Homo sapiens: one gene and its partner. The protein of the gene in region 1 interacts with the protein of each later gene in a biochemical or structural test. Each region holds a gene or a part of one and is shown on either strand. Other genes may lie near its edges.

The links. The genes of interacting proteins can lie anywhere in the genome.
Region 2: the proteins of MPP4 (region 1) and DGKK interact in a test that uses a peptide from one of them, tested with the Homo sapiens proteins (one large-scale study listed by IntAct).

Annotation. Positions count from the first base shown.
Region 1 is NC_000002.12:201,695,790-201,700,052, reverse strand, and holds the start of MPP4 (MAGUK p55 subfamily member 4), read left to right. Parts: upstream 1-1,408; 5' UTR 1,409-1,466; intron 1,467-4,263.
Region 2 is NC_000023.11:50,460,783-50,464,477, reverse strand, and holds part of DGKK (diacylglycerol kinase kappa), read left to right. Parts: intron 1-3,695. UniProt on the Homo sapiens protein: Diacylglycerol kinase that converts diacylglycerol/DAG into phosphatidic acid/phosphatidate/PA and regulates the respective levels of these two bioactive lipids.

The sequences.
Region 1 (4,263 bases):
TTTACATTGGAGATTGTTTTGAGTTTCTGAACAAACACATAAATAACCACATTTGCCTGGTAAAGCCAAATTTACAGAATTTCTGACTCTGGGCGGGGGTGGATAATATGTGGAAATGGACAAACAAAAACTTTGAGACAAATTGACCCATTGAGAAGATTTCCAATGATGATAGGCTGTCTCTGTTCTAAGAAAAGCCATGTTACAATTCGTCCTTTTACTGGAGTCTTGAATGAAACTGTTCAGTTACTTTGGATTCTTCCTACTATATGCTTTTCAGATAGCATATTAAAGTTATAAATTTTGAAGTGTATTGGAAGAAAAACCCTAAATCTCCAGGCCAATGTTTGTAAATAGAAGTCCTTGGCACTCCTGCAGCAGTTTACAATGGTCATTCACATGCGTAATGAATGCTTACAGCAGCCCAAGGATGCAGGTGTTATCCCCATTTCCCCCCATTTTTCAGACAAGCAGTGACCAAGATTTGCTCACTGCCAGAGCTGGGACTCCAGCCTAGAACTTCCCTACTCCCTACTTCCCTAGAAGTCCAGTGCTTTTTGCTACTACAGCTGCCAGAGATGTCATTTCATAGCTGGTTATGTATTGAAAGTTCTTAAAAGTGAGTTAAAAATGAAAATCTTATTGAAATCAAGTGCTTTTCACAAAATATGCTGTACTCAAAACACAAATGTATCACATTCCCAACTTGTGTTTTCATCTATGATGGAGAGATAAGGAAAGCCATGTGATTAATATGGGTAGAAGGGCTGAGGACCCTCTGATAATTGCCATTTGGTCTCTACCTTTTGCCTTGCTGTCAGCAATACCTTCCTCTCCTTTCTGCAATATCCCCTTCCAAATGCTCTCCCCACTGAGCACTCCCTGCAGTATTAAGTTTTCAGATAAAGAAGTAGCTCCTATCTGAGACAGAAAGCACTATTTGTTAGGTTCAGAACAGTGGCTTGGGAGGGGATTGACCAGAAGGTACTGTTTTTGATGGGTTTCTATTATTAGCTGAACAGTCTTCAGTTGTTTTCTCACCATAACATGAGAGATTTAATAAGGTTAGTAGGTTATTGGCTTATTTCCGGTCCTGCCACATTTTTTTCTTTCATTAAAAATGCTATCTTCTGTTGTGGAATGTCTGTCATCTTGAACTAATCAACAAAAATACTATGTTTTTCTGCCGTTAACTATGTGTTGGCAATTTGAGAGAAAATACTAGAATGTAGGTTTGAAAATGATACAAATTAGACTTCAAGGAATACTTAAGAAGATTTGTGGCAGGAAAGGCTTGTGAGTAATTTAGTTGTTAGGCTGGGTTAGGCATCTGTGGATTACATCAAAGAGGATGTGCAGAGATTTTATCGGGAGCAGTGAGGTGACTTTGGCAGCTAACAGGCCACTAGTATCCTACTAAAGCTTTTGTCTGGATAGGAGCAACATGCATGTTTACAGTCTTGCAGGTAAGAGACCTTGGCAAATAATCCTCAGTTACCAGAAGATGTATCCATAACTGCCTAGCTTGCCTGTCAGTTTTTAATAGCTAAAGATATAAATCTGGGTAATCTAACTCAAATGGCTTAGTTTCATTTTAACTCAAATGATATGGGGAATTTTATGATCTTGAAAGAGCAGGTTTTGCTTCGAGAAGCCATTTCTTCAGTATGGAATAATGAGTTGTCAGGAAGATTGAGTACAATGGGCATTTGCCCTGGTCCTAATCAACAGCATTTGGACCCAGAGGAAGCCAGCTATTTTTGTAAGGGCCATTTCTCATCATTAAGTTTCCAAGTGCTTTTTTAGGGTTTGTCTAGTAAAAAGCACTATTTTGAAAAACAAGCATAGTAAGGGTAGGGGGTTGTGGCATTTAATAGTACGTTTTAAAAAGCTAATGGAAATACTTTTAAAACAAGATTTAGGACAAATTCCTTAGGCATCAGTCACACTAATGCATCTTCTGAGTCAAGAACTGGCTATCCTTTCTGTGTACTCAGTCCGGAATTGCATGTGGTGGGTGCTTACTTATTTGCAGTCTCAATCAAGAATTCTCACTCTCAAGATAGCAGAAATAGATAAGCTTCAACTGACAAATTTGGTACAGAAGTCATGGAAAGGAAGGTAAGTCTTTTGCCAGGCATCATGCCAGGCATCAGCATCTTTCAGGACTAAGGAAACAAAAGAGGAAAACTCGATTTTACTACATGTTAACTCTACTGAATACCTCCTTGAATGTCAGATTCCTTATCTGTAAAACAAAGGTTTTGCATTTGATTATCTCTAAGATCCGCTTCTGCCCCCAGTTTTAAAGTTTGATAGGGAAAGAGGTTTAAGTCAGGATACCAGGCCAGGGAGGAAAGGAAGGGAGGGCACAGGCCTCTGGAGTTCAGCTGCCTCCCCCATTAGGATTGAAGTCCCAGCTGCTGGCTACTGCCTTGAGGGAGGTATCAGCCTTTTACTTCTGGATCTTGGCCTCTCCTTGTTCTACCCCTTCCCAACAACAACTGAACATACCAAGTGCTTGCTATGGCCCAAGCACTGTTGCAGGTGAAGCTGCAGCATGAACAAGATAAGCAACATCTCTGCTCCCCAGGCCCTCTGCAGACATGACACCTGCGGGAGACAGACACTGAGCAAGCCAGTGGATACAAGAACTGGGAAAATGAGAAGTGCTATGAGGGCAAGAAGTTGCAACTGTTTTCTTAGCTACCTGGAGGGAGGGAAAATCATTTTCTGGAAGTTTTTTTCTATGAGTTTTGTCTTAGCTTTGGCTGTCATAACAAAGTACCATAGACAGTGGCTTAAACAACAGAAATGTATTTTCTCATACAGTTCTGGAGGCTGGAAGTTGAAGATTGGGATGCCAGCATGGTTGGGTTCTTGCGAGGGTTCTCTTCCTGGCTTTCAGATGGCCGCGTTTTCACTGTGCCATCATCTGGCAGGGAGAGAGAGAACACATGAACTCTGATGGCTCTTACCCAGACGCTAATGACATCTTGAGGCCTCTACCTCATGACCTTAACCCAGTTACCTCCCAAAGGCCCCATCTTCAAATGCCATCAACAATGGGGATTAGGGCTTCAACATCTGAATTGGGGGTGGGGACACAACATTCAGTCCACCATAAATTTGTCATAGGAACCTGAAGATGAGGAGCCAAGCACAGTTTTTAGAATTTGCATAAGTTGTAGATTACTGTAATTATTGTTTTTGCCTCTATGGCTGAGAAACTTTGGGTCAAAACGAGCCTTTTAGAATGTATGAATTAGTTATCTAGGTAGCCCTGAAGTTGGCTCTAGATTTATTAGAAGCTATTTTAACCATTGCATTCACTCAAGAAACCACCGCCTATCTGTGAAGCACAGTCTATCTGTAAAGCTCCCTCACAATAAATTCATCTCAGAAATATGTAGTCTCTAGTGTGTGCCCCCAACTGCTGAATGGGTAGGCCTAGCTCAGCACAGTCATTCGGGCATTAAATATGGCAGAAATGTGGTCCACCTCATGACGTGCAAACAACAGTTGGCTTGTTTAATCTGCACTGCTTTGCCAAGGACGTGTGATTTGTGAGGTGCTGGAGGGGAACCAATTTTAAGAGTCAGCCTGAGTGTCAGCCTCATCTGTCTGCTCTGACTTTTGTCTGCTCTCTAGCAGGCACTCCATCTCCCTTTTCAATTTTCTACCCTGGAAGTGCTCCCCTCCAGGGAGGAAGATGAGTCAGATATGCAGCTGTGATGCTAAATGATTCAATAGAGTCAAAAACAACACAGAACACAGGAAAACGCATTGTTTAATCTGACTCAATTACAAGTGGGCAAGGTAGGTGATGGAGGGCAAGTCAAAAGCATAACGATGTCAAGCTTTGGTAGAACCTAGCAAACCGGAAGACTTCAGGGTGTTTGGAAAGGAATGTGTAGGGGAAAGTTGTCTAAAATGCTGTAACAGCTTTCTGTGTTGCTCTTCTCACTGCCTTAGAATTTAGAGTCAAAATAATAATGATCTTTTCTTCTTTTAGATAGCCTTCCTGGCTTCAACCCACAATCAGTCTAGATTCTAGACAGTGGTTCTCAACCCTATCAGAGTCAATACTCCAGTCTTTAACAACTAATTTGAAGTGTTCCTTTTATAACAAAAACCTTAATGTATTCTTTATTGTCCTACTATAACAATGTTGTTGGTCCCTACCCCCACCGCATACCCCTTGGTTGTTACCATTTTGGTGCACTCTGAGCCCACTCCAGCTGCTAGCCCCTCCACTTCCTA
Region 2 (3,695 bases), on another chromosome or scaffold:
ACATTTTAATTAAAAAAAGAAAGAAATATTAAAGGATAGGTCCCTGACTATACCAAATCTCCAGAATTTTTAATTCCAAGAAGCAGGGGCGCGGGGGGTGCGGGAGGGAGGGACAAAAGAAATACCACTCCTCCATGACTAAAGAGCATAAACCTTATTCTTAAAATACAATTTTTTTTAAGATTTAAAATAAAATTAAGAATGGAAGGGTATATGTGTTGGTGAAGAGGATATTACTAATGAAACAAAAACAGAATCCTCTTAAAGAGAAGAAGTACTTCAATGTCACAAAGACCCATTAATTTTCCTGTCAAAACACAACCAAAAAAAAAAAAACCGATTTTTTTAAAAGAAGAAAAAATGAAAGAAAATCCTTCTAATGGGAGTTGACTCAAATTCACTCAAAAACTTTATTCTTTTTATTTTATTTATTTATTTTTAATTAATTTTTAACTGATGCATAATAGATGTACATATTTTCAGGGAACATGTGATAATTTAATATATTTATATAATTTACCAAAAGATTTATTCTTAATATAGAATTTTTGTAATTTGAGAACAAATAGAAAAGATAGGTAGGGGAGAAACACAAAGCCAAGAAAGTCCTCTTAAACAAAAGTATTCTCAGCCTCAACAAAGCCCCTTTTTTTCTCAAAACAAGCAAATACATTTAGAATTATGGGGGGCGGGAAGGGAAGAACATGAACAGTATATTTTAAAGAGAAATATTTTTCTTAAGGAATGAAGATGCCCCCAAACTCACCAAAGTCCTTGAATATTTTTCTGAAAACAAAAAAGAAACAAAGAGAAGGAGAGAGGGAGAAAGAAGGAAGAGAAGGGAGAAGGAGAGAGAGAAACAGAGAGAGGAAGGGAGGGAGGAGGGGAGAAGGAGAGAGGGAGAAAGAAGGAAGAGAAGGGAGAAGGAGGGAGAGAAACAGAGAGAGGAAGAGAGGGAGGAGGGGAGAAGGGAGGGAGGGGGAAAGCCGGACAGGTAGAGAGGAGAGGAAGGTAGGAGCAGGTAGGGAGAGACTGAGATAGGGAGAGGAAAAAAGAGGGAGAGAGACAGAGGAAGGGAGGGAGCCAGAGAGAGAGACAAAGGGAGAGGTGGAGAGGGAAAAAGAAAGAGGGGGAGAGAAGGGAGGAGAGGGAAAAAGAAAGGGGAGACGGAGGAAAGGAGAGGGAGAGAGGAAGGAGGATGGGGGGAGAAATGTGAAGGGAAGGGGAAAAGGACTAGGTAGGATAGAGTGAAGGTGGCAGAGAAGGAGGGGTGGGAAAGAGGAAGAAGAAAATTAACAAAGGGATTATTTTTTAAAGGATCAAAGAAAGAAATTCTCTCCAGGAAAATGCACCAACACCTTACTGCAGACATTGCGTATTATTCCTGATGACTACCCTCTCCATCCCCCACAATAAGGAAAAAAAAACCACACACACACAAAATCTCTTTCTCAAGCTTCTTCAAGGTGGGGAATGTGCGTGTGGGGGGGGTGGTGGGTATGTACCCAATCTCACCCTATCCCAGGGACCTTATGTATCTTTCAGCCTTCACTGTTTCATTAAAAAAAAAAAAAAAAAAAAAAAAAAAAAAAAAAGCAAGGAAAGGAAAAGAAAATCTTTCCAGGAGAGATGTCTCCCATTCTAATTTTTCCCAATAAACTGTTTCTTTTAAAGAAAAGGAAAGAAAGAAAAATCCTACTAGGGAGGGCTCCCCAGCTTCATTAAAACAAGTTGCCCTTGTAGGTCCTCTCCACAAAACCTATTTTTTAATGGAAATCCTCCAGACCTAAAGAGAGATGCTCCCCCACCTCCACCAAAAGCAATGAATCTTTTCCCCTGGAGATTTTTAAAGAAAAAAATCTTCCATTGTAAGAGGAGATACCTTCAACTTTACTAAAATCAATGGACTTTATTCCTCTCCACATCCAAGAGGAGAAAAAAAATATTTGAGGAAAAGGGAAGAAATCCTCCTAATCTAAGGCAAGTTGGCTATAATCCCTCCAACACCATTGAACTTTCTTCCTGAGATTTTTTAAAAGAAAAAGCAAAGACAGAAAAAAAGCCTCAAAAAAAAAAAAAAAAAAAAAGCACTCACTTCTCCCACAGGCTCCACAGATCTGAAGTGTTGTACAAAGAAAAGGTACTATCCCTCTCAAATGGCACCAGTGAACTTTACATTCAGCACTAAGGCTAAAGGATGATACATTTTAATCCCAGGCTGGCTTCCCGCTGCCCCAGTCTATTTCTGGTTACCTTCCCCATCATCCAGGTAGGCAACACTCCCAAGAAAGGCACTGTCCAAAAGAAAAAGAATTAGGAGGCAAACCTTCTGGGGAAAAATCATACCTCTTTTCCAAACCGAACAAATGATTTGGGAATTCGCTGCGTCATTGTTCCCATCTAACACTACAGAGAATTAAGAGTTGATGATAAACTCAAAAGCAGTGACACTCTTGCTATTAACTACCAATTAGTCAGACACCCCTACCTAACAGGGAAGGACCCTTCGCCAACTCAGTAATGGAGGTGATCCATCCTCCATTATGTTTCATTATGTGCTGGCTTTGATGTCTGTTCCTGCAGGGCGATAAAAGGGCTTGATTTTCACAAATCCATAAAATTTGCAAATCATATTTATAAGCAGAGAGACTCAATTAATGTTTTCCAAATTTTAAAATTCATTTATTTCTTTAAAACGTAAACTGATACCTGCTCCCTATGTGCTATGTGTTTAACATTGTGCTAACCACTGAGGATTCTACAGTGAACAAAACCACATGGATGAGACTACCTTTAAGCAAAACTGGTAAATGAGAGACTCAATTACCAAAACAAATATGCAGATGGTGGTTATTTGTTTTACCAGATGCTTTGCCAAGGTATTCACTATTAATAGTCAGTTCTCTCAGCATTCCTCTACTTAAACTAAAATTCAATGTAATAAAATAAAGGAATGCATGCTAATTTCAGAGAATGTGGAAAATCAAGAAAGCTTCTAAAAAGTAAATAAAAATCATCTAGTACCCCACCACTCAGAGATAATCACTGTTAATATTTTGCTATATTTTTCATTTATTTTCTCTGAATATTTGCTTATAGTCTTCTGTAGTAAGACTTTGGGGAATGCACAATTGTGTCTCGGGCTTCACCCTGCCCCAGTCACAGCCCCACACGCTTAATTATTAGATCGTGTTCATTATTCTACCTTGGATTTAGGAAACACTTGTTCATTTTAGCTTAAAGTTCATCTAGTCAAACTCCTGTCTGATCTGATTGTTAAACATATGCTTGAATCACAACCATTCAGGGGCATATTTGCTGTGTGAAGCAGTAAGTATATAGATTTTATGTAGACACAATTGTTGCAGTTGCTCCCATATACAAATGCAGTTTGATCTCACATTTACTTACTGCACTTTTTTGGACACTTAGATTTTATTTGTCCAGTTAGCTTTTGTGACTTGGCCTTGGAGAAGGAGATCCAGAACAAAACCAACCTTATCTTCCCACTGTTAAATTCCCAAAGGGAAAAAATCTAAATTTCTGAGTCACTTTTAACTATATGCCAAAAAAAAAAAAAATTAGTGATGGCTTTGTCTCTTTAACAAGAAGTTACAGCATTATGCTAAACTGGGTATGCCATACCCAGAAGGGAAATAAGAATATATGAGGACATTATCCACAATTATAAGGAA